Linked DNA regions of Homo sapiens. The protein of the gene in region 1 interacts with the protein of each later gene in a pairwise test. Each region holds a gene or a part of one and is shown in the gene's direction. Other genes may lie near its edges.

What was found. The genes of interacting proteins can lie anywhere in the genome.
Region 2: the proteins of HID1 (region 1) and CHAT interact in binary tests that used the Homo sapiens proteins (3 or more experiments, as listed by UniProt).
Region 3: the proteins of HID1 (region 1) and SPRED1 interact in binary tests that used the Homo sapiens proteins (3 or more experiments, as listed by UniProt).

What each region holds. Positions count from the first base shown.
Region 1 is NC_000017.11:74,969,746-74,976,844, reverse strand, and holds the start of HID1 (protein HID1), read left to right. Parts: upstream 1-4,085; 5' UTR 4,086-4,188; coding exon 4,189-4,254; intron 4,255-6,052; exon of another isoform or gene 6,053-6,156; intron 6,157-7,099. UniProt on the Homo sapiens protein: May play an important role in the development of cancers in a broad range of tissues.
Region 2 is NC_000010.11:49,609,422-49,617,054, forward strand, and holds the start of CHAT (choline O-acetyltransferase), read left to right. Parts: upstream 1-4,615; 5' UTR 4,616-4,768; coding exon 4,769-5,054; intron 5,055-6,601; exon of another isoform or gene 6,602-6,631; coding exon of another isoform or gene 6,632-6,671; intron 6,672-7,080; coding exon 7,081-7,181; intron 7,182-7,633. Other genes in the region: SLC18A3 (vesicular acetylcholine transporter), read left to right, coding at 1,320-2,918. UniProt on the Homo sapiens protein: Catalyzes the reversible synthesis of acetylcholine (ACh) from acetyl CoA and choline at cholinergic synapses.
Region 3 is NC_000015.10:38,346,832-38,353,853, forward strand, and holds part of SPRED1 (sprouty-related, EVH1 domain-containing protein 1), read left to right. Parts: intron 1-2,590; coding exon 2,591-2,692; intron 2,693-4,182; coding exon 4,183-4,833; 3' UTR 4,834-7,022. UniProt on the Homo sapiens protein: Tyrosine kinase substrate that inhibits growth-factor-mediated activation of MAP kinase. Negatively regulates hematopoiesis of bone marrow.

The sequences.
Region 1 (7,099 bases):
TAATTAAAAAAATTTTTTAAAAGCTCTGTTTTATTTTGTTTTATTTAGTAAGTGTGTGTGTGTGTGTATATATATATATATATATATATATATATATATATATTTTTTTTTTTTTTTTTTTTTTTTTTTTGAGACAGAGTCTCACTCTGTCGCCCAGGCTGGAGTACAGTGGTGCGATCTCAGCTCACTGCAAGCTCCACCTCCTGGGTTCTCGCCATTCTGCTGCCTCAGCCTCCTGAGTAGCTGGGACTACAGGCGCCCACCACCATGCCCAGCTAATTTTTTTTATGTTTTATTTTTTAGTAGAGATGGGGTTTCACCATGTTAGCCAGGATGGTCTTGATCTCCTGACCTCGTGATCCGCCCGCCTCGGCCTCCCAAAGTGCTGGGATTACAGGCGTGAGCCACCGCGCCCGGCCGAGAATATTCTTTCTTCATACATCCAGACTTATTTCTTAAAATGTTTACTATAAAAGTTTTCACACACACACAAAAGTAGACAGAATGGTGGAACGAACTGTTTTTCTTTGCTGCAGTAGATTTAAAAGCAAATGCCCAGTCACTACAGATATCAATATGCATCACTGGAAAACAACTGACAGCATTTTAAAAACATAATTACTGGTGGAACTAGAGAGGATGTTAAGCTTAACTTAGAGAATGTAAATAACGGTCAGGGATGAATGGGTATTTTTCCACTTAGATATGTTAGTGGTCAAGTTCCTCAGGACAATGTTATGTTTTTTTCCATGCCGTGGTGGGGTGAATGCACAGAGACTTTGTAAGATTTCCTGGCATTAAGATGATCTAAGGGCCGGGTGTGGTGGCTCACACCTATAATCCCAGCACTTTGGGAGGCTGAGGGGGGTGGATCAGAAGGTCAGGAGATTGAGACCATCCTGGCTAACACGGTGAAACTCCGTCTCTACTAAAAATACAAAAAAATTAGCCGGGCATGGTGGCATGTGCCTGTAGTCCCAGCCACTTGGGAAGCCGAGGCAGGATAATTGCTTGAACCTGGGTGGTGGAGGTTGCAGTGAGCCGAGGTTGCACCATTGCACTCCAGGCTGGGTGACAGAACGAGACTCCGTCTCGGAAAAAAAAAAAAAAAAAAAAAAAAGATGATCTATGGAGGAGAATGCCCATCTGAGTGGTAGAAGAGCCCCTGAGGCTAGGTGAGGGTGGACTCAATTAAATCCAGTAATATTTCCATGTCACTTGGGAGTTCCTGGTTGCAAGCCACAGAAATGGCTCTGAGTGATGGGCAAGACCAAAGGGGTCAAAATTTCACCCGGAGTGGCTGGTTAGCAAGAGTTCTCAATTCTTTTCTTCTCCTTCTTCTCCTCCTCCTTCTTCATACCTTCACTTGCCTTTATTATTTTTTCTTCTTTTTGAAGGCTGAGCACGGTGGCTCCTGCTTGTAATCCCGATGCTTTGGGAGGCCCAGGCAGGAGGGTCGCTTGAGCTCAGGAGTTTGAGACCGCCTGGGCCACATGGCAAAACCCCATCCGTATAAAAAATACAAAATTAGCCGGGCGTCATGGTGTGCACCTGTAATGCCAGCTACTTGGGAGGCTGAGGTGGGAGGATTGCTTGAGCCTTGGAGGTAGAGGGTGCAATGAGCTGTGATCATGCCACTGCACAGTCTGAATGACAGAGGGAGACCCTGTCTCAAAAAACTAAAAATAAATAAAGAAATAAACTGTTAGCATGTTGCCAGCTTTTGAAAGTCATTGTGCTAGCCATGTAGTGTTATCTTACTGTGGTTTCAATTTGCATTTCCCTAATGATTATGATTGAGAGTTTTTAATGTCACTCTGGCCTGGAATGCGGTTGAGTGATTTGTAGAATAGACTGGATTTTTTTTAATGCCAAATAAAGGAACTATTCATTCATTATCTTGGAATGATTAGAAAAGCCATGAAACCTGCCAAGGATTTTGCCCAGGGCGGGGAAAACCCACCTCCGGAGAAAGGCTAGAGCTACCCTATCATTGCCCTGTGGAGTTTGTTTGTTCCGTGAAATGGCGACACCCTTCGCACTCCTCTTTCCCTCCACACCCGCTCCACCCTGCCACACTTTTGCTCCCAGATGGCGTGCCCCTCATTTTTCACCTGTAGAATTCCTCTTTAAGTGAATGTCACATCCTTTTGAAGCATCTAGGGGCCAGGCATGGTGGCTTACATCTGTAATCCCAGCACTTCGGGAGGCTGAGGTGGGAGGATCCCTTGAGGCCAGGAGTTGGGGATTAGCTTGGGCAATGTAGCAAGATCCTGTCTATACAAAAAATGAAAAAAAAAATTAGCTGGGCATGGTGGTGTGCACCTGTAGTCCTAACTACTCAGCAGGCTGAGGCAGGAGGATTGCTTGAGTCCCAGCATTCGAGGCTGCAATGAGCTATGATTGCACCACTGCACTCCAGCATGGGCAACAGAGTGAAACCTCGTCTGCAAAATGCATGCATGCATGCATGAATGAATGAATGAATAAATAAATAAATAATAGGGCTGGGCATGGTGGCTCACACCTGTAATCCCAGCACTTTGGGAGGCTGAGGCAGGCGGATCATTTGAGGTCAGGAGTTCAAGACCAGCCTGGACAACATGGTGAAACTCTATCTCTACTAAAAACAAAAAAAAATTAGCTGGGGGTGGTGGCGGGCCCCTGTAGACCCAGCTACTCGGGCGGCTGAGGCAAGAGAATTGCTTGAACCCAGGAGGTGGAGTTTGCAGTGAGCTGAGATTGTGCCACTGCACTCCAGCCTGGGTGGGCGACAGAGCGAAACTCCATCTCAAAAAATAAAAAATAAAAAAGCATCCAAGATTTCCAGAAGCTTCCAGACATAGCTTGCAAAATGATGTTGTGGAAAAAGCGCAGCCTCATTTGGATGAGCTCCTTACTACCTGTGTGGCTTTGGGCAAGTAATTGCTTTAAGCCTCATTTTCCCCAAGTGTAAAATGGGGATAAAATAATACCTCAGAGGTAGCTATTAGAGATATCGTCATTGTCGTCTTGTTTTGATTCCCCCCCCCCCCCCGAGATGGAGTCTTGCTCTGTCGCCCAGGCTGGAGTGCAGTGGCGTGATCTCGGCTCACTGCAACCTTTGCCTCCCAGGTTTAAGCAATTCTGCTACTTCAGCCTCCAGAGTAGCTGGGATTACAGGCGTGCGCCACTAAGCCCAGCTAATTTTTGTATTTTTAGTAGAGACGGGGTTTCACCATGTTGGCCAGGCTGGTCTCGAACTCCTGACCTCGTGATCCGCCTGCCTCGGCCTCCCAAAGTGTTGGGATTACAGGCGTTAGCCACCGCACCCGGCCTTGTTTTGATGATTAATCTGCCTCTATTACAGGCTTATTTGGCTGTACCCTGGCCGCTTCTTTCCTTATCCCTCTCCCTAGCTGCTCGCCATAAAGAGCAGGCTGTACTACTTATGTCCGCTGTGTCCGTCCATGACACAGAGTTGGCAAATACCAGACCCTCAGCACATTTGTTGAAATGGATGAATCTCAAAGGATTCTCTGGGAATCTGGTGGCTAGAGAGGGGTCGGGACCGCGAGGGACTCTCGCGCTCAGCAAGGCGAGGAGCTGCTTTCCTGGAGTATGGAAACTGAGTCAGCGCCTCCCTCCCTCATAACCAAGGGCCTGCGGGACTGTCTGAACACGTGGGTTTGACAGGTCAGAAAAAGGGAGAACCAAGAGAGTGGATGCTCAGAAAACATGAATGGGAAAGACAGACTGAGAAGGAGGAAAGTGGGATGGAGAGGGCCAGCTGAGACGTGGGCCAGGAGCCGGAGCGGAGATGAAGGGTGAGGACCGGGGCGGGGGACGAGCTGCGAGGAGGGTTTTGGGCCCTGGGGACTGCGTGGTAGCAGCGGAGGCGGGTACAATGCTCCGACGCAGAAGGAAGAGCGTCGAGGCTCCGGGTGGGACCTGAGAAGGCACCCGGCGTGCGGCGGCGCTGGGTTGGAACCGCCGACTCCGCGGGTCTTCGGCGGCGGGCGCTGCAGGTGCAGGAGGCGGAGCCACGCGGGGGCGGGGCCTGTCGGGGCGGGGCCGACGAGGGCCGGGGGCGGGGCGCGCCGCTTGTCTCCTGCGAGAGCCGCGGGGGCCGCGGAGCTGGAGCCGGAGCTGAAGCCGGAGCCGGGTTGGAGTCTGGGCGGGGGCCGGGCCGGAGCGGGCTCCAGAGACATGGGGTCGACCGACTCCAAGCTGAACTTCCGGAAGGCGGTGATCCAGCTCACCACCAAGACGCAGGTGCGCCACGGGGGCCCCGGCGTCCCCATCCACCTGCCGGGCTGGGGGCTGGGCAGGGCCGGGGGTACGCGAACTTGGCTCGTCGGGAGATGGGGGGACGGGCGGGCCCCGAGCGTAACGCCAAGGCCAGCGCCGGAACGGGACCCCGCGGCCTGTACCTGGAAGCTCCATCCCCTGGCCCTAGTCCCCCACCCTCAGCCTCCTCTCCTGGGAACACCCCTCTCCCCGAAGCCGCTGCTGCCACCTTAGGCTGACGTGTGCCTACTCCCCGAGCCGGCGACACAGCTGTCCGCCCCCTGTCCCGCCCCGCGGCGTCCCCAGCTTCGCATCTCCAGCCTCCCGCCGCCCCCACCCACCCATCCACCGTCCGCTCCCCTCCCTGCCCCTCATTGCCCGCGGGTCCCGGACGCACAGTCCCTGTTGACTCAATGCAAACAAAGCCTGGCTGGCGTCCGCCCGGGTCGGAGAAACAGCTGGTGTGCGCGGCAGCGGCCTCGCTGGGCCCTGGTCGATGCCCGTGGGCAGGGAAGGCCCAGGTCTTCCTGGGAACACGCAAAGAGTGGCGGGCAGCGAGGCAGCCTGGTGGGGGGCCCTGTCCCCAGGCCTACTGAGCACAGCCTCCCAGCTGGGGACCTCTCCAGGGGCCTTCCCCGAGGCCCTGCAAGGGAAAGGCTGTTAGCCTGTGTGCTCTGTTCTCTGGCTCAGGGATGGGGACCCGCAGGATGGCCCTCAGTCAGCTGGTGAGGGGCCTAAGGACCCTCCAGCCTAGTCCATGCTCATAACTCTCCTGTGAGTCCACAAGTGGCCCAATAGCCACCTCCTTATACCACCTGGCCCCAGCAAGACTGCTTCTCTGCCCACCCCTTCTCTCCTGGCTTTTTGAATCAGGCCACCGTGGCCACAGAGATGCTCGGCCCTGACTCCCCATGTCCCCCATTTTCAGGGGACACAGGACCTGCTGCCATCTGGGATCTTCCTCTTTCCTGGCCCCCCCACCTCCTGCTCTCCAGGGCTCTCTCTTGCTGCTGGAGGTTAGAGTGGGATGGAGGAAGCCAGCTCCCACAGCCAGCTGGTCACAGCTCCAGGGGCCAGACCTTGCTCCCTCACCCCTTTCCCCACCCTGGAAGGGTCAAATGTGCAGCAAATGCCCAGGGCCTCTGGAGAGTCCAACCCCGGCTGAAAGGCTCTTGATAGAAACCAGACCGCACTTCTCTCCATTCCCTACGGCTCCTGGGTCGTTCTGGAGCTTGGCTTTTTTAGGATGGGGTTTTCGTTCTGTGGGTGGCAGGGAAGGTGGCAAGTGGGCTAGCCCCTCAGTGTAGGGCTGCAGGGAGAGGAGTGGGGAGGCAGGGAGGAAGGGAGGCTCCCATGTTTACCTGCCTGGGGAAGAAACTCCTTGTTGGAGGATTGCACTGTGGGCTCGGCAGCTGGGGTCCTTTGCCAGGCCAGTGGGGCCAGCTCAGCAGAGTACCAAAGGCTCTGGAGTGGCCTAGATTCCTACCTGCTCAGGCCTTTTCCCCAAAATACTGTGTCCCTCTGTCTTTCCCTGGCTACAGCCCTATGATGGGCCACTTGAGATGGTGCTGTTCTGTTTCCCAGCTGAGTAGGCTTGGAATAGAACCTGGATAGGCTGGAGATCAGACCAGCCTTCTGGAGAGCACTGGGTCCTGTAGGCGGACGGGGGCCTGGGCTGCCCGGGGGGAGAGGCCTTCAGAGGCTGAAGCCTTGGACTCTGTGTAAGTGACCTGACTTGGGTAGCTTGGGTGTGAGGATCAGAACCCAGATGATCATCACTGACCTTACCACTTGGAGTCCCCAAGGAGATTCAGGCCAGTTGTCCATAGGATGATATGTGGTTCCAGGCTCTTACAGGGTGTGGCTTGGGCAGTAGACAGGCAGAACTAGCCCCTTTTCCTGTGGCCTGGGCCTGTATCCCTGCTGCTCCACCTTCCTCGCCTTCCTGCCCTGCATCCTGTTTTCTTCCTGCCCCATGGTCCAGTCCTGGGTCAGGCCTGACCCTGGTCCTAAGAGCCAGCCGCTTTGGCTGTGTTTCCTGGTGCTTCCTCATAGTAGGTGGGGCTCTGGAGGGAGACAGTCCCAGACCTGGAACCCTCTCCCAGATCCTGCCTGTTTGGAATTCTCTGCTGCAGGCCAGATGAACCTGGCGGGTGCATATTTACATGTGTATACATGTATGTGCATGGGAATGCATGGTGACACAGTCCTCTAGAGCAGGCTTAGCAGGCTTGAGGACTAGGGGACCTTCCCCCTGCACACCCTGAGAGTCAAAAGATACAACTGCTCCCCCAGGTCTGAGTGGGGGTCTAGTCCGAGCAGGGGCCTGGAAAAGCTGGGTTAAGAATATCTGATTTTGGGCCGGGTGTGGTGGCTCATGCCTGTAATCCCAGCACTTTGGGAGGCTGAGGTGGGAGGATCACCTGAGGTCAGGAGTTCGAGACCAGCCTGAGCGACATGGAGAAACCTCGTCTCTACTAAAAATACAAAAATTAGCCAGGCGTGGTGGAACATGCCTGTATTCCCAGCTACTCGGGAGGCTGAGGCAGTAGAATCGCTTGACCCCAGGATGCAGAGGTTGCGGTGAGCTGAGATCATGCTTCTAGCTTGGGCAACAAGAGCGAAACTCTGCCTCAAAAAAAAAAAAAAAAAAGAAAAAAGAAAAATCTGATTTTGGCCAGGCGTGGTGGCTCATGGCTGTAATCCCAGCACTTTGGGAGGTGGAGGCAGGAGGATCGCTTGAGCCCAGGAGTTTGAGACCAGCCTGGGCAACACAGCAAGACCCTATCTCTAAAAAATAAAAAAAATTAGCTGGGCTGGGTGGGGTGCG
Region 2 (7,633 bases), on another chromosome or scaffold:
GGTGCGAAGAGTGCCTGGGAGGAGTTAGAGTGGGGAGGGGGTGCGGCGGCGGGGAGAGAAGAGGCGGAGCTGGGGGACCAGACCGCTAAAGGAGAAAGGGGGATTCCAGGCAAGGGGAATGTGGCCAGGCAGTGCGGGAGGGCGGCAGCGGCCAGGCTAATATTCGCGACCCCGACTGGGGCGCGGCAACTTCTGCCCTCAGTCCCCACAAGCTCCCGGCCGCGATTCGCGGCCGAGAAATTCTGCGGAGGGGCCGGTGGGTCAGAGCCAGGCCAGGCAGTTGCTGAGCCTTCCCCTCCCCTCCTGGCGGGAGTGTGTGTGCAAGGGGCCAGGGGGCGGAGTCGGAGAAAGGGTTGGGGGTGTCCGTGTCCAGCGCTCCTCCGGACGCGGCTCCACAATCCAGCTGCGAGAACAGATGGACGCAGCGGCGGCTCACCTCGGGGGCTTCCTGCTCGCTGTGCGCCGAGGTCCAGGCTGAAGCGGAGATCGCAAGCCTCTGGCTCCCGCCTCTCCCAAGGGGCCTCGAGGAACCGGCTGCCGCGCCCCCTTCCCCAAGAGGAGAAGAGCGGGCGCTGACCCCGCGAGTCCTAGAACCGCGGGCGGGGGGCAGGCAGGGGGCGGGGGGCAGAGGGCCAGCTACCGGCGCGGAACGCCCATCCCAGGGGCTGGTTCAAGACTTCCACACCGAGAGCCCTTCCTGGGCCTCCAGCCCTGGAGCATCTGGAGAGCGGACCCCTGCCCGGCCACGCCCCGCCCCCGGCCCCCGCCCCGCCGACGTCGCATTAGCATGAGCGACGTAAGTGGCCCGGGCACCACTCGGGGGCTGGGACTCGCCGCGTCACAGCCCCGAGTGGAAGGGAAAAAAAAAGAGGAGGCGGCGGAGGAGGCAAGAGCCGACGCGAGGGGAGGGGAGCGCAGCGGCGGGGCTAACGGGCGGGCAAGCGGGCGGGCGGCAACAGCATGTCCCTCGGCCAGCGCGGGCGGCCTCTTAGCGCGGCGGGGGCTGCTCTGGGCGCGCCCCGGGCGAAGTGCGCCCAGTCTCCGGCCCCGGCCCCTCGGCGCGCCCGACTTCCCGGCCGCCCCTGAGCCCAGCAGCCGCGGGTCCCGGGATCGGCTAAGAGTAGCTGCAACGCCTCGCCGGACGGAGTCCTTTCCTTTCCCGGGACGCTGGGCCATGAGCTCCGCGGCCACCTGAGGCACAGGGGAGTCTGCTCGGCCAGGACAGCCTCCCCGAAGTCCCGTGCCCTCGCCTCTGCACTGCGGGACGCCAGCGCTCGGCCCTGGCGGAGGCGTCCTCGGAAGAGCATCGGGGTGGGGGCATGGAATCCGCGGAACCTGCGGGCCAGGCCCGGGCGGCGGCCACCAAGCTGTCGGAGGCTGTGGGCGCGGCGCTGCAGGAGCCCCGGCGGCAGAGGCGCCTGGTGCTTGTTATCGTGTGCGTGGCGCTGTTACTGGACAACATGCTGTACATGGTCATCGTGCCCATAGTGCCCGACTACATCGCCCACATGCGCGGGGGCGGCGAGGGCCCCACCCGGACTCCCGAGGTGTGGGAGCCCACCCTGCCGCTGCCCACTCCGGCCAATGCCAGCGCCTACACGGCCAACACCTCGGCGTCCCCGACAGCTGCGTGGCCAGCGGGCTCAGCCCTTCGGCCCCGCTACCCTACGGAGAGCGAAGACGTGAAGATCGGGGTGCTGTTTGCTTCCAAGGCTATCCTGCAGCTGCTAGTGAACCCCTTGAGCGGGCCCTTCATCGACCGCATGAGCTACGACGTGCCGCTGCTGATCGGCCTGGGCGTCATGTTCGCCTCTACAGTCCTGTTCGCCTTCGCCGAGGACTACGCCACGCTGTTCGCGGCGCGCAGCCTGCAGGGCCTGGGCTCAGCCTTCGCCGACACGTCTGGCATAGCCATGATCGCCGATAAGTACCCGGAGGAGCCGGAGCGCAGTCGTGCACTGGGCGTGGCGCTGGCCTTCATTAGCTTCGGAAGCCTAGTGGCCCCGCCCTTCGGGGGCATCCTCTATGAGTTCGCCGGCAAGCGCGTGCCCTTCTTGGTGCTAGCTGCCGTGTCGCTCTTTGACGCGCTGTTGCTGCTGGCAGTGGCCAAACCCTTCTCGGCGGCTGCACGGGCTCGGGCCAACCTGCCAGTGGGCACTCCCATCCACCGCCTCATGCTAGACCCCTACATTGCCGTGGTGGCCGGCGCGCTCACCACCTGTAACATTCCCCTCGCCTTCCTCGAACCCACCATTGCCACGTGGATGAAGCATACGATGGCGGCTTCCGAGTGGGAGATGGGCATGGCCTGGCTGCCGGCCTTCGTGCCTCATGTGCTGGGCGTCTACCTCACCGTGCGCCTGGCGGCGCGCTACCCACACCTGCAGTGGCTGTACGGCGCGCTTGGGCTGGCTGTGATCGGCGCCAGCTCGTGCATCGTGCCCGCCTGCCGCTCCTTCGCGCCGCTAGTGGTCTCACTATGCGGCCTCTGTTTTGGCATAGCCCTAGTCGACACAGCACTGCTGCCCACGCTCGCCTTCCTGGTGGACGTGCGCCATGTCTCAGTCTATGGCAGCGTCTACGCCATCGCCGACATCTCCTATTCGGTGGCCTACGCGCTCGGGCCCATAGTGGCAGGCCACATTGTGCACTCGCTGGGCTTTGAGCAGCTCAGCCTTGGCATGGGACTGGCCAACCTGCTCTATGCTCCCGTCTTGCTGCTGCTCCGCAACGTGGGCCTCCTGACGCGCTCCCGTTCCGAGCGCGATGTGCTGCTTGATGAGCCACCGCAAGGTCTGTACGATGCGGTGCGCCTGCGTGAGCGTCCTGTGTCTGGCCAGGACGGCGAGCCTCGCAGCCCGCCTGGCCCTTTTGATGCGTGCGAGGACGACTACAACTACTACTACACCCGCAGCTAGCATCCCCACTCCTCCTCCAGCCCACCCAACCGCCTTGGGTCAAGGGGGCTGCTCTGCAAGCCCACTGGCCAGCTCTGGCTCAGGGCCCACCTCCTCCAGCGAGTACCCCAGCCACTCCTCAACCTTGACTTCTGCCCAAATCCCCTCCCTGTGACCCGTTCCATATCCCTTTCTCTCTTGTCCAATGGGGCTTGGAGCACCGAGGCCAGCGAAGCCATCGCGCTCCTTGCGGAGGTGAAGAGGACCCTGAGTCCCCACCTGCGGCTCCCCTGTGTAGAGCCTGCATCTGTCTGTCCTTCCTTCCATTGCTCCCAGTGCCAAACTTGGGCCGCTGCACCGCGGCGCCTCCGCCCAAATCAATAAACTGTGTCTGTCCCAGGAGGCCGAGTCTCTTTACTGGTGGGGGGTGCGTGGAGGCGCGCAGGGCCAGAGCAGAGGGGAGGGTGAACTGGGTCTCCAAGTCCCAATCCAGACCTAAGCCAAACTAACACGTAGGCACCTGTAGCTGTTTTTCTACCTGGAAAAGGGGATAGGAAGGAAGCAAACCCAACAAAGGCTGTCACCCACGGTCACCAAGGAGCACCATGCTCCCCTCAGCCCAGGATAGACCCTCTTTTCCAGGCCTAGCGCAGAGCCCGGGGATGCCGCCCGGGGGAGCCTGAGGACCCGCTCCAGCTAGGCACGCCAGGCCCCGCCCTTTGAGGACACGCCCCACACCAGCCTCAGAGCTCTGAGGTGCCTGGGCTGAGCTTCCCTTCAGACCAGAATCCCGCCCCGTTGAGGCTTTGAGAAAGGAGTAGGAGCCGAGCATTCCGGCAGAGGAAGAAAAACGGCCCATCTTTTAGAGTCCGACCTCTGGAAATGTGTGTATGATGTGATGTGTGTGTTCATTAGAGAACTTGTCCTAGGAGGAGTGGGGGAGCCGTGGTTGGTGTTTGCTGTATCCCTGTCAGTCCCGAGGGTCTGAGTCTTGAAGGGAGAGATGCGAGTGTGGGATCTGGTGCCAACCCCCACTGCCACCCTGTCCTGAGTGGGAGCAGCGGCCCAGGACTGTCAGGAAAGTTTCCCATCCTTAGTCCCAGCCCTGAGAGCCTCAAGCCAGCGTTCGCGCAACACTCCATGTCCCGAAGACCGTAGTCTGATGATCGAGGCAGAGTCTTCCCATCATAGCGTGAAGAGGCGGCTGGTCAGGGTCGCCTGTGTGTTAGCTGCGCCTGTGAGGGTCTGCTCTGCTGTTGTGCGCATGTCTGTCCTCGATCTGCGAGTCGGGCTGTGTGTGCCTGGGCGGAGTCTGCCTTTGTCGGTCTGTCTGTGCTATTTCTGTGTGGGGGTCTCTATCTGGGGTGGGGGATGCTTTTGTCTGAGAGGAGAGCCTGCCTCTTGCCGCAGTCCTTAAGCATCCTCAGGTCTGCCATCAGGATTGTCCCAAGTCTGTAGCACCCCACCTCTGCTCCCCACCCCATAGTGCCAGCAGGAATGGGATGGTAACAGAAAGGGAAGTCCTGCAGTGAATATTGATCCCAGTTATTGTTTCTTATTATTATTTTGAAAGATGGTGTAGCAGGGTTTGAGACTGGCCTGGATGGTGGGGAGAGGAGGGCAGCGAGCAGAGACTTCCTCAGACCCAACCCTCTCCAGGATTCAGCAGCAGCACCCCAAGGCTGGAATAATGGGGTTGGGGAAGTGCGGTGACTGGGAAATGCTGAGCTAGGGGCAGGAGGCATGGGCGGGACAGTGTTCTGTGCCCCCTTCTAGAGCCTAAATTTGTTGCCCGAGTTCCTCCGGGAAGCGCTCCGGGTAGATTCTGGGGGCCGGGAGCTGAGATCCCTGGGCGGGGAGCTGGGGAAGGGATGGGGCTGAGGACAGCGAAGAAGAGGGGGCTTGGGGGAGGGGGGAAATGGAAGAGAGAGGAGGGAGGAGGTACAAGAGGAAGGAGAGAAGTGCGGCCAGCTTGCTTTCTCCAGTCGGGTGGCCGCGGGGACCCGGGCGACGTCGGAGGCCCTGCCGGGAACCCAGGCTGCAGCCCCCACCCCCGCGCTGCGACACGCCCCCCACCCCTTCCGGCTCACACCCCCGCCCACACTCCTGAGTGGTGCGGTGCAGCGTCGGCCGAGGCAGCAGAGCCGAGGAGAGCAGGTGAGAAGAAGGGCTGGGCTGGGCTGGCGGAGCGCGGTGCCGGGAGCAAGGGCGGCGGTCGGGGGCTCTATCCAGGGACAGCACCGGGGCCGAGAGGCCCCAGGACTCGTGGAGTCCTCTGAGTCCTGCGCAGCAGCGGCCGTCGGGGGTCAGCTAGGAAGCTGCAGGATTGCGTTGCTTCGGTGCCTGGGCTTGGGGAGGCTTAACCATCAGGGCTTCGGGACTCCAAGCGCATGTTCTCACTTCACTTGGCCCAGCATCTGCTAAGTGACCAGGTCCGCGCTTTCTGTGTCTAGTCGGAGGGTCCTTGGGTCTGACCCGACTCGCCTGAATTGCTGGTTGGCAACCGCTTCTCCCGGGAGCAGGGGGTGGGGAAGGAGGAGCAGTGGCTGGTGGCAAGTCTGAGCCAGGACATAGCCGATGACAGCCTGTGAATGACCGGCCAGACTGGGGTTGGACCTTCGGGGCAGAGCAGGCAGCCCTTGGAAAGCCAGGCTGGCAGGAGCATGGGTGGGAGGCACAAAACACAAACAGACATATATACACATACATCCTCTAGGCATCTGCCCAGGAGTGATGGAGGAAGAAGAGTTGGTAGGTGGGACCACCAGGAAACCATCCCACCCAGCTCTGCCTTCTTCAAGCTCAGGGTCCCTGAAGCCTGACTAGTGTCTCCCGAATGGGGGGGAGGGGGGGGCTCTGGGCCAGAGCAAAAGGAGGCATTGGCTGCATGGTCTGTAGGGCCTTTACCAACCTGACCTTGTCCTTGCTGTCCTCTCAAAAGACTGCCATGCTCCGGTGAATCCTCACCAGGACGCCACCTCTTTCACTTTGCAGTTGGGGGCAGCCCCTACGAACCCACAGCACTGGGAGGCGTGGGAACAAGCCTGTGGAGAGTGTCCCTGCACTGTGCCAGCAAGGGCTTTACATTCTCTGCCCAGCACTGCAAGGCAGCCCCAGGCTCCTCCATCCTTGGGCCTGGTTCATCCATCTTTCTGGACTCTCTGTTCCTGGCAACAACCCTGCCAGGTGCCCATACATGGGCGGTGCTTGCCTCTGGGTAGGGGTGGTGTTGGGTGGGGAGAGGGGTGAGGAAATTAGCTAAACCTCAGCTTTAGACTTGAGAGAATAGAGGGTGGGCTGGTGGAAAACATGAGTATGTGCCTGTGGAGGCTTAGGTTCAGGGGGATCTCAGAGGGTAGCAATTGTGACCCACAGCCTAATAATAACAGTCTTTGCCCTCTTGGCCTGGCTCACTTCTACTGTACCTTCAAAATTAATCTGCCTCTCCCCAGACTAAGGCAGGTGGCCCCTAGGGGCCCTGGCTGCCCAGCCTCCCTGCATACCTCCCTGGGCACTCCTATGGCATCTACACTGGCAGCCTGCAGACCCGAGACTGCCTAGGTCACAACGCCTCCAGCAGGCCCAGAGTCTCCCTGCCCTGGCCACAGGCCAGGCTCCCAATTAGCCCAGATGCATCCTGGAGCACAGGGCCTTAAAGGCCTCCATTCACCCACGCATGCATTCCTTTCCCTCCACCAACGGAGTGAGGGAATTCACCCTACTCCACACCAGAGATGTGGCCGGAATGCAGAGATGAAGCACTGAGCACAGTAGGTATGGTCTTACCCTTGAGAAGCTAGTGGGAAAGAGAGAGTTTGATTGGCAAAGCACTTATCTATTGGGTTCCAGGCAGGAACAAAGGCAGCACTCTGCCAGCAACCCCTGGTGGATTTGGATTGCCCCAGGGTGGTCAGCTGGCCTTGGGTGACAACAGACTCATGAGAGCAGACCCTCACTTTAGGAACCACTCTCTCCCATATGGGGGCCCAGAGAGAACACTGTGGTCAGCACGTACAGGTGGAAGTAGAGACTGGGGCCACGCCTGCAATGAGACCCCTATACACAGCTGTCAGGCTCTGGCCTCCTCATGGGGCTGGGGTGGGGGTCTGTTGGCGGGAGGTGGAGGGTTTGTGACAGGCCTATGTGGCTGCTGTGTTGATGCTTCCCACTTCTTGGTCCCCAGGTCCACACCTCTGCATCCCTGCACCAGGACTCACCAAGACGCCCATCCTGGAAAAGGTCCCCCGTAAGATGGCAGCAAAAACTCCCAGCAGTGAGGAGTCTGTGAGTGACTTTTGGAGCCCTCTCTCAACCCTGCTTTCCCCACCTACATGCCCTTGCTTCTAGAACAGTCCTGAGTGGGACTGGCCCCCAGCATTTGCCTGGCCCCAGCCCTGCCCTCTACTGGCACAAGGCCCAGGCTACAGCTCCACCCCCAGCTTGCTGAGGATCCCAGAAGGGCCTGGAGGGGCTGAGACGGGCCTCAGGGTGCCAAGGAAATGCTAAGAGCTTAACTTCCAAATCCCCTGGCCAGGCTAGGCCCTATCTTTCCTTCCAGGGCCTCTCTTCATCCCAGCTTCCACTTCTGATAGCTTTGAGCCCAGTGATTTTGCCTTAGGGTGGGGCTGAATTCCTACTCCAAGCCCTGCAAGTCCCAGCTCCAGCTGCTATCACTAGTTCAGCCTTGGAGCCTTAGGCACCATGTTCTCCACTGGCCTGAGACAATGCCATCCTCC
Region 3 (7,022 bases), on another chromosome or scaffold:
ACCACCTACAGGGGATATGTATTGAGTATTTGAAAGACTTCGGAAATAACTGTGATTGTTCCTTTACAAATGGATTTTAACTGCATGCTTTCATATGGCCTTGTTACTAGGTAATCAAATGTTCTGTGTTACTTCCCTGTATATTCTGGATTCAGATCTTTCTGAGTTTTATTTGTGGCTAGTATCTCCTAGTTGGTGATTATTTTTCACTCTTTGTGGTGTTTTGGTGAGCAGACATTATAAATTTTAATGCAGTTGAATTTATCATTTCTCATTATTTTTACAGACTCTTCCCTATCCTCATCTTAAAGATTTTCTTCCTAATCTAAAAGTTTTAAAGTTTTGTCTTTAATCCACTTTAATTTGATTTCTCTTCTATGGTAGGGACCAAATTTTATTTTTTCCACATAGGTTACTAATTGTCCCCGCACTGTTTATTGGAGCCTTTCCCCGCACTGATATGCAGTACCATATCTGACACATCAATTCTCTATATATGTTTGAGTCTGTTTCTGATGTCTCTAATCTAAATTAGTGTCACATTGTCATCTTTACTGTAGAAATGCTGTAGCTCTATAATAACTTAATATTTGTAGAGAAAGTGCCTAACTTTGTTTTCCCGCTTGGATCTTTTTTTTTTTTTTTTTTTTTTTTCAATTTGGCTGTTTGCCCTTTTAAAATATTTAGAATCAGCTTGTCAAATCTGATGAAGAATCCTTTTGTGGTTTATATTTGAATTGCGCTGAATGTGTGTGTTAGTTTAGGGGATAATTTATCATCTTATTCGTGAATATGATATATACCTCTGTTTAGCTCTTCTTCTGTATCTTTACATAAAACTTTGTATTTTCTTTGTGAAAAGATAATACATATTTTATAGGATTATTTCTTTGTACCATTTTTGTTGTTCTATTATAAATGGAATCCTTTTAAAATTTTAATTGTGACCAGCTTTGAAGAAGCATCTCTTATGACTTTTTCAGCTGATAAATTTTCCTGAAGATTATAGCAAAAGTACCAAATTTTGAGGGTATTAAAAAGCAGAAATTAATTGGGGTGTATCTTATCACATCTGTTTTTAGTAAGTGTGAAAAGGTCAATATTGTCCATTTATTTGTCTTTTCACTTAGAGATTGTGTGAGAGAACTAATATTCATAGACCCTGTTGACTCAGGTAGTTTTCAAAGTGTGTATGTGTTTAAGTGGTGTGTGTGACTTTTTTCTGAGACAGTGGTGAGAAAATTGACATTTTTACTCTTTAGAATAGTTCTTAGAAATGTATATTTAATATACTAGTTGAGGTCATTGTGTTCTATCAGGAAAAAAAATTGTTCTCTCTGCTTCCTTTTGTGTAATGTTCTTCTGTTTTTCTTTTTTTCACTTGACCAAATATCTAGCTTATTCTGTGTTTACTTCAAGTCGCATTTCCTTTCATGCCTTCCCAGACCATTTAATCCATAGTTATTTCCTCTTGTTAATTTCTAAATTCTTACAGATTCTACTTATAAACATAGAATGGCCTCCATATTGTATCATTAAATGCAGAGACCAAGGGCACAGTACAAAGGGTCCTATTTTAAAGATCTGTGTGTGTGTGTGTGTGTGTGTCTGTGTGTGTAAAAATTTTTGGAGGAATGCACTAAAAAATTTTTTTTATGATAGTTAACTTTTAAAACTGGGTCTGAAAGGTCTAAGATGGAAGGAAGAGTTTTACTTCATGTGCTTTTATACTATTTGAAAATTTTGCTATCTGCATGTATTACTATTTATTTTCAGGGTTATAGTGTTTATTAAGTATGTAACAGTAGGAGTTGGCTCAAAATTATCTGGAAAAATAAGAAGTAAACAAGATTGCCAAAATGTTGATGATAAGTGAAGCTAGATAATAGACCCATGGTGATTCATAACATTATTCTCTCCTTTTATGTATATTAGAATTTTTCACCATAAAATTTTAAAAATTAAACATTGATATATTCTAGCTATAATTTAGGTCTGAAATGGGCTTTGCAATTCGAAACACTTGTAAATGTATCAGGACACTAAAGATTCCTATTTTTTTATTGCTATATAATTCACCTACCACAAAATCATCCTTTAAAAAAGTATGTAATTTGGTGGTTTTTATTATATTCACAAGATTGTGCAGCCATCAGCAGTATCAAATTCCATATCACTTCCCAAAAAACCCACACTGATTATCAGTCATTGCCCCTCCTTCCCTATTCCCAGCCCCTGGCAACCATTATTGTGACATGTGTAACTACTTTATTTCTCTTTGTGGTTGAATAATATTCCACTCTATGGATTTACTACATTTTGTTTATCCGTTCATTAGTTGATGAATATTTGGGTTGTTTGTACTTTTTTGACTATGTATTCATTACTTGTTAAAGTTTAAATATGTAAGAAAAGACCTATGGTTTTTGTTTGTGTTTTAGGTGGGGGGAAATGATTCTATTTTTATTCTCAAAACCGTTTTTGAAAAACTTTACTGCTAATAAATTATGAGGTTTTGGAACATACACTGTACAGTTTCATTAAAAGTAAAATTCTTGTGTCATTTAAGTAGAAATTGTTTGTATTTTAGATAACATTTGGTCAGCCAGGCTTGGACATTCAGAGCAGAAGTATGGAATACGTACAGCGGCAAATATCCAAGGAATGTGGAAGCCTAAAGTCCCAAAATAGGGTAAGTAATGTTAGTTTATCTTGTGATATGGAATTTAACTAATTAATAGATAGGTAAAGTTTTCCAGTCTTTCTAATTCTCCATATAGTTGAATTGTACTAGAAAATTTTTCATTGTATAAATTTGCTGCCTATGTGCTTAAACGCTGTTAGTTAAAAACTCTGCAAACTTCTCATTTGAGTCTAAAAGATTGCCAGAGCTGCATTTATTAGATAGGACCAAAAGGAATTATATATTGTTAATTAAATAAACTGTATCTGTCACCCCACCTTTAGCTCAGACCTAGAATTTTCTTAGCCCTAATTCCATGTATCTAGGAAATAGAAGTTTGCCCCAAACTGAGTCAGATGCTTACTTGTAGTAGACTAGTCACTGTGTCCAGGGACTGGAGCTAAAGATACAAATTTGTCTACTTAGAAGCCTGCATTTATGGATGATGTAAGGGGTCAAAAGACTTAATTTTGTTCTTTGGCCTCAAAGAACCAACCTTCCCAGAAGGGTTGTGGAAGTAGGGGTATTTTACGTCATTGTTCAGAGACTTTTTGTGTACCCAAGCTACACACATGTGTGTCTTTGTATTAATTTGCTAGGACTCCCACAACAAAATATTACAGACTGGGTAGCTTCAACAACAGAAATTTATTTTCTCACAATTCTTAGAAGTTCAAGATCAAGGTTGTTGGTAGGTTTGGTTTCTTCTGAGGCCTTTCTTCTTGGCTTGCAGGTAGCTGCCCTCACATGGTCTTTCCTCACTTTGCCCTCACATGCTCTTTCCTCTGCCCGTACATCCCTGGTGTCTTTCTCTGTGTGTCCAAATTTCCTCATAAAGAAAACAGTCAGATTGGATTAAAGTCTCTCTTAAGGGCCACATTTTAACTTAGTCACCTCTTAAAAGGCTCTATATCCAAATACAGTCGCATTACTGGAGGTTAGGGCTTCAGCATATGAATTTGAAGAGGACATAAGTCAGACCATAACATTTTGTCCTTTGTTCCCAAAATCATGCCCTTCTCACTTGCAAAATACATTCATCCTTATCCTAACAGCCCCAAAGACATAACCCATTCCAGCATCAACTCTTAAGTCCCAAATCTCATCTAAATAACGTCTTTCAATCAAGTGTGGGTAAGTGGCTCATGCAATAGTAGAGGTACAGATCCAAAACAGGGTAGGCTGTCTGGAGACCCAAGAAATAGTTGTAGTCTGAGTCCAAAGGCACCCTGCTGGCAGAATTTCTTCTTGCTCAGGGGGAGCTCAGTCTTAGTTCTAGTAAAGCCTTCAACTGATTTTATGAGGTCCGCCTATACCACAGAAGGTACTGTGCTTTCCTCATAGTCCACCAACTGAAATGTTGATCTCATCCCAAAAACATATCATAGAAATGTCCAGAATAATATTTCAACAAATATCTGGACACTGGCCCCACCAAGGTGACACGTAAAATTAACCATCATAGCCCTCATTGCAGTTTTTATCTGTTTCTTTTTTAGGTCCCTTTGAAATCAATCAGACATGTCAGCTTTCAAGATGAGGATGAGATTGTCAGAATAAACCCTCGAGATATCTTAATACGTCGCTATGCAGACTACAGACATCCTGACATGTGGAAAAATGACTTGGAAAGAGATGATGCTGATTCCAGTATTCAGTTTTCTAAACCAGACAGTAAAAAATCAGACTATCTGTACTCTTGTGGGGATGAGACTAAGTTAAGTTCACCCAAAGACTCTGTGGTATTTAAGACGCAGCCTTCCTCATTAAAAATTAAGAAGTCAAAACGAAGAAAAGAGGATGGTGAACGTTCTCGCTGCGTATACTGCCAGGAAAGGTTTAATCATGAAGAAAATGTTAGGGGAAAATGTCAGGATGCTCCAGACCCTATTAAAAGATGCATATATCAAGTTAGTTGCATGCTCTGTGCAGAGAGCATGTTGTATCATTGTATGTCAGACTCAGAGGGAGATTTTTCTGATCCCTGTTCGTGTGACACTAGCGACGACAAGTTCTGCTTGCGATGGTTAGCCCTGGTAGCTTTGTCTTTCATTGTACCATGTATGTGCTGCTACGTCCCTTTGAGAATGTGCCATCGCTGTGGTGAGGCATGTGGTTGCTGTGGTGGGAAACATAAAGCTGCTGGATGAAATGGTCCAGTGCCAAAATGAGCTTAAAATCTTTGTTTCCAGGAATTAGCTAACTTGGATTTGTGGAAGCTTTTGGCAAGCAATATGGAATCTTGCCTGGTATCATTGAGCCCACACATGGAGGAAGCAGAACTCATCAGTTCTTGGCGTTTCACGCCATGCCTAACTTTTCCCTTGAGTGCATGGCATGTTTTGTTACAGGTTGTAGAGTATTTGCAGAAGGAAACCATTTCTGGTTATTTGGCTATAAAAAGTCAGCATAAAATATGATCCAACTAAAAGGGATTAATTTTTGGCATTTTTGTATATTTATGCATTAGGTGATGGGACTTTTAAAGGTTTGAATTTATTAGGACACGAACTAAAAATAAAAGTGCACTAGGGGACAGTTGATTTCAATCTAAGAAAAGTTAACACTTGGGAATTACAAGAAGTAAAACAAGTGCAACTAAATCATTTATTAGTTGTTTTTTGAAAGCAGTTTTATGTATAAATAACAAATGTTTATATTTAACTAAATGTAAGGTACGAATTATTACATATTAAACTTTTCTTCCCCTTCCTAGTTCTGAAGTAGATATATATATATATATATCTACTGTCACATTCCATATATTTTGAATATTTAACTCATCTAGTTAATAATGTTTTTATTCCATGCGAATGATTTGATATTTTCATCCTTATTTCTCTTTGGCTACAATTTATATTGAGTTATATCTGTACATTCTGGTAATCTAAAATCCTTAAAAATACTCTAATAGCCTTGAGTGACCAACTTTTTTTTTAAAGCACAGATGTAATTGTCTAATGTTCTGATGGGAACGTAACACTTATTTTTATATAAAAAGAGACTGAGTAAACAAACATTATAGAAAAAAAGTGAAGTTTTTTAGTTGTTTTTTGTGGTATTCAACCAGCAAGTTGTTTTCTTTCAGAGTTTCCTCCTTCAAAAAGTTATATTGCATTTACAAATGTTTTACAAGGCAGAAAGTTTGACTGGATAGTTAGTGTAAAAGCTTCATGTTGAGATCTTCACGTATCATTCTGCTAAACCAGAATATGTTCAGCTGTGTTACTAATTTTTCAGCTTAATCCTCAGTGCTTATTATTTACATAACAATAACTTTTTATCAGTTACATTTTATTTTTATTTAAACTGGCCAAAAGCAAAATTATTTTATGTTAAAATGTGTGCTAAACTATCCCAGGAAAGTATTTAATCCAACATTGTAAATGAAGTATCTTGTACATATAAATTTATTTCTTTTGCAGAGCATTATATTACTGGATGTTTAATTTACAAAATAGTTGGGTAAATGTTCCAACAAACTTTAAAGTACCTTGAAGTCAAATTGTCTGTTTTTGTTTTGTTGTTGTTGTTGTTGTTTTCTTAAGTGTTACATTAAAACTCTAACCAAGGAAAGGGTTCTTTAAGAACATTCCCTTAGAGGGATAAAGTTGAGAAGTGTGCCTTTTTTTTAATGGCTTGAAGTTTCAGAGGTGATAAAAATTAAAATCACACTACTATTTGAAGCTCATTTTCTATGCAGGTTTTTAAACGTCATTTATGTATCATTCTTTTTATATATCACACTTAAGCTTGTGTTAGCTTTTTTCTTTTGCCCCAGATCAAACTGAACAATGTATATAACACTATCTGTCTGTAAAATACTTTTTTTAAGAAAGCATTTATATTTATATGACAGCTTGAACTGACAACATTGTGTATATAGATCATCTTGAAGTATTATTTCACATTGAAAAGAAGAAAATATATTGATAACTATAGATGTTATGAAGAAGAGGGTATTTCTAGTTTTGTACTAAAAATCAATTGGATGAACTAAATCCAAAACATGACACTGTAGGCAGCAGTTTTAAGTCTTATTTTTACTGTTTATATATTTGAATGCTGCTACAACAGATGATCTTCATCCCTGAAGTTTTCAGCTAAACTTGGTTTCCTAGAATAGACTGTTAACTTTCAAAATTTTTATTGGTGAAATGGAAATACTGTTTTTCCTTGTGAATGAATTTTCATATTTGTAAGTGCTAAGTTTATAATTCAGGTTTGATCAAGGTGTGAATAACTGAAGAAAATAACTTGCTGGCTATATAGGAAAATGCTGTGGAAATGAACTGTGTATATACTTCTGGGAGGAACAAATTTAATCATTTCTTCTGTT